Homo sapiens: one gene and its partners. The protein of the gene in region 3 purifies or fractionates together with the protein of the main gene of each other region. This does not show direct contact. Each region holds a gene or a part of one and is shown on either strand. Other genes may lie near its edges.

The links.
Region 1: the proteins of STAC2 (region 3) and URM1 purify together in Homo sapiens (affinity purification with mass spectrometry; one large-scale study listed by BioGRID and IntAct). This does not show direct contact.
Region 2: the proteins of STAC2 (region 3) and ANKLE2 purify together in Homo sapiens (affinity purification with mass spectrometry; one large-scale study listed by BioGRID and IntAct). This does not show direct contact.

What each region holds. Positions count from the first base shown.
Region 1 is NC_000009.12:128,381,374-128,385,024, forward strand, and holds part of URM1 (ubiquitin-related modifier 1), read left to right. Parts: intron 1-3,651. UniProt on the Homo sapiens protein: Acts as a sulfur carrier required for 2-thiolation of mcm(5)S(2)U at tRNA wobble positions of cytosolic tRNA(Lys), tRNA(Glu) and tRNA(Gln). Serves as sulfur donor in tRNA 2-thiolation reaction by being thiocarboxylated (-COSH) at its C-terminus by MOCS3.
Region 2 is NC_000012.12:132,730,829-132,734,479, reverse strand, and holds part of ANKLE2 (ankyrin repeat and LEM domain-containing protein 2), read left to right. Parts: coding exon 1-95; intron 96-408; coding exon of another isoform or gene 409-464; exon of another isoform or gene 465-621; intron 622-3,651. UniProt on the Homo sapiens protein: Involved in mitotic nuclear envelope reassembly by promoting dephosphorylation of BAF/BANF1 during mitotic exit.
Region 3 is NC_000017.11:39,215,846-39,219,496, reverse strand, and holds part of STAC2 (SH3 and cysteine-rich domain-containing protein 2), read left to right. Parts: intron 1-1,323; coding exon 1,324-1,630; intron 1,631-2,323; coding exon 2,324-2,421; intron 2,422-2,596; coding exon 2,597-2,687; intron 2,688-3,651. UniProt on the Homo sapiens protein: Plays a redundant role in promoting the expression of calcium channel CACNA1S at the cell membrane, and thereby contributes to increased channel activity. Slows down the inactivation rate of the calcium channel CACNA1C.

The DNA of each region.
Region 1 (3,651 bases), on a different chromosome or scaffold from region 3:
AGGTGGTCAGCAGAGGTCTCTTTAAGGAGGTAACATACCAAGGCCAGGTGCAGTGGCTCACTCCTGTAATCCCAGCACTTTGGGAGGCCAAGGTAGGCGGATCACCTGAGGTCTGGAGTTAGAGACCAGCCAGGCCAACATGGTGAAACCCTGTCTCTACTAAAAATACAAAAATAGCTGGGCATGGTGGTGGGCACCTGTAATCCCAGGTTGAGGCAGGAGAATCGCTTGAACCCTGGAGGTGGAGGTTGTATAGTGAGCCGAGATCGTGCCACTGCACTCCAGCCTGGGCGCAGAGCAAGACTCCGTCTCAAAAACAAAAAACAAAACAAATAAAAGGTAGAAACCAAAATTTAGAGAAGTCAGGGGTCTCACCCCAAGTCATAGAGTTATTTAAATAGCAGGGTTGGGATTCAGAACTAGCTTTCAGGCCACTGAATTTCAGAGTCCTGGCGCTTTGCCACTAACCCATCACCGTCTATCCCAAGAGGCTCCCTGAATTACTCTAACATCTTACATTTTCCAGTTTTTACGCTTTCCTTCATTTATTTATTCATGAGTTCAACAACTACTTATTTCAACTTTCAGATGACCCCAAGAGATAAGAGACCCCTAAAAGAGAAAGAGAAGGAGGGAGGGACCTGAGGCCTGCCCAGAGTTACCCAAGTAGGGAGGCTGGGCTGGGACTCAGATTTTTTTATCCTTCATCTTCCAGCCACTGTTCAGGGAACAGGCAGGGGCCTATCCCCACTCTGGGAAGAAAGGAGGGGAGTGGGAGGGAAGGCACAATGGCCCACTTAGTCTTTGGCTCCTTTGCTGTGAGTCCCTACACCTGGTTCCTGTTGTGCCCAGAGGCATGGGTCACACAGCAGACCCATGGTAACCTAGGTTGGTGACCTAGGTCACCAACAGAGCTGGTTAGCAGCTGCCAGGCCTCACCCTGGCACATGTGAGCCCAGCTGGGGGTCAGGGGCCTGGTGCTGCTAGGAGAGTCTTACCCTTCCCCCAAGTCCATGCCCAGATATGTCATCTGGCAGACTTCCCAGCCTAGGGGCTGCCACTTGGCCAAGCGAGTCTTGGAGGTTCCAGCAGAAATAATAGCAGCCGTAAGATTTCAGAATGTGACAAGCCTCACAAATGAGGGAACTCGTGGCTCCTAGGCCAGGGGAGAGCTTCCAACCCAGCCAATTTGGGAGAAATGATGAGCAAGGCCTGAGGGAGTGAGACTGCGAGAGAGGAAGCCTGGCACGCGCAGTTGCACATCACTTATTCCTGCCAGACTCTTTCTTCCCTATCTGTAAGATGGGAGGTTGGGCTCGCTCTGTATGTTATTGAGCTGGTTGTCTCTTTGACATCTATAAGAAAAGTTTCTTCAAGATCCAAGTATATACAATTCGGTGAAGCAGAGTGTGCTGACCCAGTAAGAAGTTGTGTGAGAGAAGGGATGTCTTAACAGCCATCTCGCTGAAACGGCCATGCAGGCACCCACCAGCTTAGGGTATTGCGGCTGCTGGGAGTTGGCCTCTGTGATTCAAGCATCCCTTTGACCCAAGGCCCCCTGCCCAGGCCCCAAGTGTAGACATGGCCGCCTCACCTTTCCCTGCCTGTCTTCCCCTGTCCTGCCTTTGTGCCCCCTCTGCCTGCTCCACTTGTGTTAAAGGGTGGCTGGTGAGGGAGGGCAGGAGCTGCAGGAGCTCCTGGGCGCTTTAAACTGCTTAGCATGCATTTCACAGCCTCTCTGGGGCCAGCTGTTCCTTTCTCTGCTCTCAGGGCCTGTTTGCTGATCCCCTCTCCACCTCCCTCCTCCCCACACCCCTCCCAGTCCCTGTGCAAAATTGCTTTTGAAAAGATCCACTTTCTGCTTAATTAAACAATGAGGAGGTCCCCTCGCACATCTGTAAACCTCCTTCTGAGGCCAGTTTAGCCCACAAACTGCTCCATTCTTACCCCCATTCACTTGTAAATGGCCCCTCTGATGTTCCCTCCACCCCCTCTCCTCTGTTACTCCCCCCTTGCCAGCTCTTTCTTTTCCCTTTTCAACTGAGGCCTGGGGTGGGCTCTCCGAAGAGCCGTCTTGGAGCCTGGTGGACTTGGTGGGGACAGAGGCAGTTTAACCTGTGGAAGAGAAGACTTAGGGGATCCTTTCTTCCAAATCTGAAGGGCCATCCTGGGGAAGAGGGGGTGCATTTGTTGGCATGGTCCCCGTGGACCATTCAGGCCCAGTGGGTGGGAATGACAGGAAGACAGATTTCTGCTTGGGAGAAAAGAGCTCTTAACAATCAGAGCCGCTCCACAGAGGAGCTGACCTCCTGTCCCTGGAGGTGTTCAAAGAGAGGCTGGATGAGGGTCTGTTACGCCTGCGAGTCAATATCAGATACGACTTTGAGGTTGTTCCGTTTCAGTCCCACGAGGCTGAGGCTGACACCCTTTGGGGCCCTCCCACAGTGGGCAGTCAGTGTCCCCCAGAATAGGACAAGTCCACCGGGGCGAGGGATTCTGGTGGAGCTTGCGTCGGTGCTCTCCACAGTGGGTATCCTCCCTTTGGCAGCAGCCTTTAGAAGGTACTGGAGCCCAGAGGATGAGGAATCTGAAGTCACTGTGGGCTTACAGCTCAGAGCAGCCATCTGTTGAGCGTGTCCTGTGTGTGTGACACTGCCAGGCCTGCCTTGGGCATTGTGCCTTACGTAATCCTCAGCAGCTCTTGGTGTTTGGATTATTATCCCTGCTTGTCAGAGGATGACACTGAGACAGCAAGATGAAGTGACTTCCTAGCTAAGGCCATCGAGCACACAGCCGAGGTCCTCTGGCTGTAGACTCAGAACTCAACCACTCCAGCATAGAGCAGCAGCTCTCATTGCCTGCTCTGCCCCCGATGGGCAGGCCAGGTGCCAAGGTATCCTGCACTGGAAACCTTGTATTAAGTGCCCATCTCCTTCCTCTGGTGCTGTGTGCCCGGGGGCAGCCTGGCCGCCAGCACCTACAGACTCAGAGTGTCATTCCTACCACCTGGGTTGTACTGGGAGCATTGGCCAACCCCAACATCTTGTGGGTTCAAACATCTAACACAGAAGGAAGGTCAGTATCTAGGACCCCTCACTACTCTCGCAGTCCCCTCATTCCCTTTCCAGCTTCTGATGGGAAGATACGGGATGCCACAGAAAACCCCAGCCGGTCCCAGCACTATCTGATTAATGGTTGGCTCTACCTTGCCCTCTAAAGCTGAGGTGCCAGGCCACTGGGCAGAGCGTGCAGAAACCCAGAGAGCGCGAGGGGTATAGGTTCTTCCTCTGGATCCTGGAGTAATTACAGCATTGATATGCAGGGCACAGTGCTGAGAGCTTTGTATATATCGTCTTATTTGATCCCCCACAATGACCCTATGAGACAATGTTAACATCCCCATTTTACAAAAAAAGGAAGCCGAGGCTTCCTATTACCTAAGGTAATAGAACTAGTAAGTGATGGAGTCCAGCTCAAAACCAGGCCTGTCTGACTCCAGGGTCCATACTCTTAGTCTCTTTCTTCCTCCCTCCTTCCCTCCCTACCTCCCCAGTTGTCCACTCAAGTAATGGTAATGGTAGTGCCATACATTTGAGCTGGATCGTGATTCAAGTGTTGAGTCAGAGACACATGGAAGCACAGGCCTGGGCA
Region 2 (3,651 bases), on a different chromosome or scaffold from region 3:
AGAAGAATATCTCACACAGCAGGAAATAGGCAAAAAGGCTCAACAAGAAACAGGAGAACGGGAAGCCTCCTGCCGAGATAAAGCCACCACGTCTGGTAAGCATGTGCAGGCGTGGCTGTGGCAGCTGGGAGGGGCCCCCCATGGCCGGGGTCTGACGGGATGCGCACATCTGTTTCTCGTCTCTTGGTGTTTTTAACGTAAAGGTCTGGTACTTTCCCTTAGGTTAGTATTTTTTGAGACGGAACCTCTCTTTGTTACCCAAGCTGGAGTGCAGTGGCGCAATCTTGGCTCACTGCAACCTCCACCTCCTGGGTTCAAGCGATTCTTCTGCCTCAGCCTCCTGAGTAGCTGGGACTACAGGCGCCCGCCACCACGCCTGGCTAATTTTCGTATTTTTTTTTTTTTTAGTGGAGATGCGGTTTCACCGTATTGACCAGGCTGGTCTCGAACTCCTGACCTCGTGATCCACTAGAGTGCTGGGAAGGTTAATGTTAAATGGGTTGTGTGTCGGGGAGGGTACATGAAAAATAATGGCATCGCTTTGAGCAGTATTGCTGTTTCTGCTTGTGTTTGCATTATCCAAAATCTAATATAGTTTCATTCTGTGCCGTTTTCTCAAAACTCATAATAGCTGAACTCCATTGGCTGAGCCTGATATTTTAGATTTGGTATATTTTCAGGAAAAAGACGAGTGCACATCAGAATACTGGTGTATATCAGACACCAGGGCACGAAGCGCCTTGCACGGTGCGTATCAGACACCAGGACGCAGAGCGCTTCACACAGTGCATATCAGACACCAGGACGCAGAGCGCTTCACACAGTGTATTTCAGACACCAGGACGCAGAGAGCTTCACACGGTGCATTTCAGACACCAGGATGCAGAGTGCTTCACACGGTGCATTTCAGACACCAGGATGCAGAGCGCTTCACACGGTGCATATCAGGCACCAGCACGCAGAGAGCTTCACACGGTGCATATCAGACACCAGGACGCGCAGTGCTTCACACGGGGTATATCAGACACCAGCACGCAGAGAGCTTCACACGGTGCATATCAGACACCAGGACGCAGAGAGCTTCACACGGTGCCTGTCAGACACCAGGACGCAGAGCGCTTCACACGGTGCATATCAGACACCAGGACGCAGAGAGCTTCACACGGTGCACGTCAGACACCAGGACGCAGAGAGCTTCACACGGTGCATATCAGACACCAGGACGCGCAGTGCTTCACACGGTGCATATCAGACACCAGGACGCAGAGAGCTTCACACGGTGCATATCAGACACCAGCACGCAGAGAGCTTCACACGGTGCATATCAGACACCAGGACGCGCAGTGCTTCACACGGTGCATATCAGACACCAGGACGCAGAGAGCTTCACACGGTGCGTATCAGACACCAGCATGCAGAGCGCTTCACGGTGCATATCAGACACCAGGACGCAGAGCGCTTCACACAGTGCATATCAGACACCAGGACGCAGAGCGCTTCACACAGTGTATTTCAGACACCAGGACGCAGAGAGCTTCACACGGTGCATATCAGACACCAGGATGCAGAGCGCTTCACACGGTGCATTTCAGACACCAGGATGCAGAGCGCTTCACACGGTGCATATCAGACACCAGCACGCAGAGGGCTTCACATGGTGCACGTCAGACACCAGGACGCAGAGAGCTTCACACGGTGCATATCAGACACCAGGACGCGCAGTGCTTCACATGGTGCATATCAGACACCAGGACGCAGAGAGCTTCACACGGTGCATATCAGACACCAGGACGCAGAGAGCTTCACACGGTGCGTATCAGACACCAGCACGCAGAGCGCTTCACGGTGCGTATCAGACACCAGGACGCAGAGAGCTTCACACGGTGCGTATCAGACGCCAGGACGCGCAGTGCTTCACACGGTGCATATCAGACACCAGCATGCAGAGAGCTTCACACGGTGCGTATCAGACACCAGCACTCAGAGAGCTTCACACGGTGCATGTCAGACACCAGCACGCAGAGAGCTTCACACGGTGCATATCAGACACCAGGACGCAGAGAGCTTCACACGGTGCGTATCAGACACCAGCACGCAGAGCGCTTCACAGTGCGTATCAGACACCAGGACGCAGAGAGCTTCACACGGTGCGTATCAGACACCAGGACGCAGAGAGCTTCACACGGTGCGTATCAGACACCAGGATGCAGAGCGCTTCACACGGTGCGTATCAGACACCAGGATGCAGAGCACTTCACACGGTGCGTATCAGACACCAGGACGCAGAGCGCTTCACACGGTGCGTATCAGACACCAGGATGCAGAGCGCTTCACACGGTGTATATCAGACACCAGGACGCAGAGCGCTTCACATGGTGTATATCAGACACCAGGACGCAAACGCAAAGCGCTTCACACGGTGCACATCAGACACCAGCATGCAGAGAGCTTCACACGGTGCATATCAGACACCAGGACGCAGAGCGCTTCACACGGTGCATATGAGACACCAGGACGCAGAGCGCTTCACACGGTGTATATCAGACACCAGGACGCACACGCAAAGCACTTCACACGGTGCATATCAGACACCACGATGCAAAGTGCTTCCAAAGCACAGATGCACTGAATGGAAAGAGCATGATGGAAGAGGTTAATCTACAAAATCTAAAAGTGATTCATAAAAACATCAACGATGGCCGGGCACGGGAGCTCAGGCCTGCAATCCCAGCGGCCGGGCGTGGCGGCTCACACTATAATCCCAGCACTTAGGGAGGCCAACGTGGGTGGATTGCTGAAACCCAGGAGTTCGAAGGCAGCTTGAGCAACATAGTGAGACTCTGTCTCTATTTATTTTTTTAAAAAAACAGAAATTTGCTAATAACTAGAGATTCGAATCTGCTAAAATACAAATTAAAGCAGATATACAGTTTAAACTGTGTGTGTGTGTGTGTGAGTGTGTGTCTGTGTGAGTTTGTGTGTGTAAGGTCATAATAGAACCATTAGCCCGCAAGACACTTCATTTATAAAACAAACTCCCTGGAATGATAGAAAATGAAAATGATTGACATACATTAAACTAAGAAGCAGTGAATCTTCAACAGTCACGACCTGTGACTCTGAACCACAGAACTAGAGCGACGTCAGTGCCGTCGTTATACAGGAATCATTGAAGTCTGACCTTGCTGTGTTGTAGCTGATGGTGGCACAGAACTCACTTCTGTAAAGCGGCCTCATTTACAGTGTTGTCTTGTGACTATGTACATTTTAATTAGTAAATATTAAATAAAGTTGAGGCATTTCCTAAGTAGCAGGAGCCACAGCTCAAGTGTTCTGGATCCTCCTGTGGCCGCGGCCACCATCGTGAACACCAAACGGGACATTTCTGTTGCCTGTCGCACAGTGCTGCGCCCGGGAGCTCTTCTGTGTTATCTTCACACCTAAAGCGCAGCAGGGTTACTTCATGGAGTTGTTCTGGACGATCTTCGGGATCCTCTGGGGCACTGTGACACTCGGAGCCCCTGGGGTCGCAGCAGATCGGAGCTGGAGGGTGGCTGGGGGTGCAGGGCAGTCATCTCGCCCATCACCTGGGCTGCCCTTGGCGTTTTCATGTCCCTGCCTTTGAAAGAAAAGTCAGCCTGGCAGCTTTAT
Region 3 (3,651 bases):
AGCATCACCCGAGTGGAGCTGTGGTGGAAGTTGGGCTGGATGCAGTGGACACCAGAGGAGGGAGTGGGTCATGAGACAGAATTCCTGCAGAAGAGAGTTCCTGGAGGAGGAAGGACCAGTGGAAGCATATTGGCAGGATAAAGAGGGTATGAACTGAGTGAGGCAGAGAAGAGGACAAACATGTCAAAAGCTCAGAGGCATAAAAGCATGGATGAGTTTGAGAATTGAGGATTCTCAATTCTCAATGAATTGAGAAATGAGTTTCTGGGCTGCAAAGGCACAGGTTGGAAGGACAGGTTTGGCCAAGTTGCAAGGAGAGTCTCGTGGCTGGGGCGAGAGCCTTGGACGGTGTCCCGAGGAGCTAGGAAGAGTTTTTAGCAGGATCAGGCATCACCCCCGCAACAGCTGTATGGAGGACAGGTGGAAGCAGGGGGCTGGAGGGGAGGCTGTGGCCTTGAAGCAGACTGGGGCATCAGGGCCTGAACTAAGGGCTGTGAGGTGACGAGTCAATGGGAGGGAGGGGAGGGCTAGAGAGACTTTCTGTCGGGGAGAATCAGTCCCAAGGATGAGGGTCCAGGACGACCACTCCTCACCCCCCACCAGCCTGTTCGAGAACACAGGTGGATACTACGTTGCCCAGGCTGGTCTCCAACTGCTTGGCTCAAGCGATTCCCTCCCGCCTCAGCCTCTCAGAGTGCTGAGATTATAGGCAGGAGCCACCATACCGTGCCTATTTTTTTTTTTCTAAACTTGAGTAAATGGTACACCCATACAACAAAATACTTTGTAGCCATAAAAAAGAATGATGAATCTATTTATGTATGGGTATGGAATGATTTCCAAGATTTACTGTTTATGAAAAAAAGCAAGGCACAGGAAATATAGTATACTACCATTTCTTCAAAGAAAAATGGAATTAAACCACTTAAACTTGTTTCTATCCGATTTCACATAAAAGTCTAGATTTCTTTTGAAAAACTAGAAAACCTGGCAACAGCCTCAATTGGCTTGAGGAGACCTGCAGCTACTCCCTGGCCATCCAGTTTGCCACAGTCCCCACGGCTCTTGATTGCTGCCCACCTGGCCAGAACTCCTTTCTCCATGGAGGTCAACCACCTGGCTTTTGTGGCACCTGAGATTGCGAAGTGTCGTCGGGACCTGGGGAGCCTCTCTGTTGCTGTTTCATTTCGCTCTGGCCCTCAGCCCCCACGCTGCTGCTGCTGCTGCTGCTGCCGCCCCTACCGCCAGAGACACCCTGAAGGGAAGCCCGCCCTGGCCAGCCCCCTCTAGGCTCCCACTCACAGCTCCCTCTTTTTCTCCCAGCTCCAGCGATTCAAGCGCTCCCTCTCCCTCAAGACCATCCTCCGAAGTAAGAGCTTGGAGAACTTCTTCCTTCGCTCGGGCTCTGAGCTCAAGTGCCCCACCGAGGTGCTGCTGACGCCCCCAACCCCACTGCCCCCTCCCTCCCCACCACCCACAGCCTCGGACAGGGGCCTGGCTACCCCATCCCCCTCCCCATGCCCAGTCCCACGCCCCCTGGCAGCGCTCAAACCAGTGAGGCTGCACAGCTTCCAGGAACATGTCTTCAAGCGAGCTAGCCCTTGTGAGCTGTGCCACCAGCTCATCGTAGGTAGGTGCCTGGGCACTGAGGCGGCCACGGGGAGGGGCCAGCGTGGGTACTGGGGAGTGGGCTCATGTTGCGCCCAATATTATTGGGCTCTTGCTGTTCAGGAGCCCCAATACTAATTGTGCCTCTGTGCCTCTTTTTTTTTTTGAGACAGAGTCTTGCTCTGTCTCCCAGGCTGGAGTGCAGTGATGCAATCTTGGTTCACTGCAACCTCCACTTCCCTGGCTCAAGGGATCCTCCTGCCTCAGCCTCTGTAGTAGCTGGGACTGCAGGCACACACTACCATGCCCAGCTAATTTTAAAATATTTTTTGTAGAGATGGGGTTTTGCCATGTTGCTCAGGCTGGTCAAACCCTGGGCTCAAGCAATCCATCCACCTCAGCCTCCCAAAGTGCTGGGATTACAGATGTGAGCCATTGCACCCACCCCCAACTGTGCCTCTTACCCAAGGCAGAGAGAGGAGCACCACCAAGGGTGGGGGTATACTCAGTGTCACTGCCTCAGTGTCACTGCCATGTTTACTAACGACTCTGGCTTCCGTGCTCCCTCATACCCTGACTGTGTGAGGGGTAGGTGCTGGGCCTCAAGGCTGGCATGAGAATGCCCAACCCCTGCTCTCCTCATCCCCTAATGTGCCCCTCCTTTGCCTGTTGCCCACGGGGGTGTCCTCAATTGCTGAACCCAAATTCTTCCTAGGAAACTCCAAACAGGGCTTGCGATGTAAGATGTGCAAAGTCAGCGTCCACCTCTGGTGCTCTGAGGAGATCTCCCACCAGCAATGCCCAGGCAAGACGGTGAGCGGGGACCCAGGCAGAGATGGCCAGCTGAGTGCTGCCAGTACTGTCACATGGGAGAATGAGTATCCCTCAGGGCTGCTCCTTCCTGTGGGGTGGGCCCTGGGCTTGGGAAGGACCAAGTTCTCCATAGGCCATGACCTCCTCAAAACCTCTCTGCCCTCTCTTGCCATAGTCCACCTCCTTCCGCCGCAACTTCAGTTCCCCTCTCCTGGTGCATGAGCCGCCACCAGTCTGTGCCACAAGCAAAGAGTCCCCACCCACTGGTGAGTGCCCCCCCTGGCCGCAGTCCCTGCTCCCATTGTGGTGGGATGAGAAATCAACATCCCTGACCAGCCTGGCCAACACAGTGAAACCCCGTCTCTCAATTGCTTGAACCCAGGAGGCGGAGGTTGCAGTGAGCCAAGATCACGCCACTGCACTCCAGCCTGGGCTACAGAGTGAGACTCCATCTCAAAAAAAAAGAAAGAAATCAACATTTCTGAGATGGGTGCCTGAGTCACACTGGCACAGACAGTTCCTACCATTTCCCTTCTCTGGATGTTCCTGTCCTGAATTTGGGGTTCATTCATTCATTCACTCATCATTCCTTCAACAAGCACTTTATTAAGCACATACTAAGTGCCAGGCACAGTGCTGGACTCTGAGACACAGTAGTGAAGAAGGTGGAATTTATTGTCTAGTAAAGGAGATAGGACTGAAATGGACAGTCATGCAAATCATCAATCAATCACCATCAGCATGAGCGCCTTAAGTGGGGAAGATAAGGAATAGAGCATAGAATGTGTGCTGAAAGCTGGGTGTGGTGGCTCATACCTGTAATCCCAGCTACTTGGGAGGCTGAGGCAGGAGGATTGCTTGAGCCCAGGAGTTGGAGTCCAGCCTGGGCAACATGGTGAGACCCTATCTCTAAATTAAGAGAAAAGAAAAAGCTCGCTGTCTTCATCTGCAAAATCAGGGAAGACTTCCCAGAGATGTGAAGGATGAGGCATGAGGGGTTCATCCATTTAGGATCTGGAAAGACTGGTGTGGGGCAGAGGGAAGCCTGAGAAAGGAAGGACAGGGAGTTAAAGAAAGGGCAAAGTGCCAAGTGTGGTGGCTCACACCTGTAATCTCAGCACTTTGGGAGGCCGAGGCGGGCGGATCACAGTGTCAGGAGTTTGAGACAAGCCTGACCAACATGGTGAAACCCCGTCTCTACTAAAAATACAAAAAAATTAGCTGGGTGTG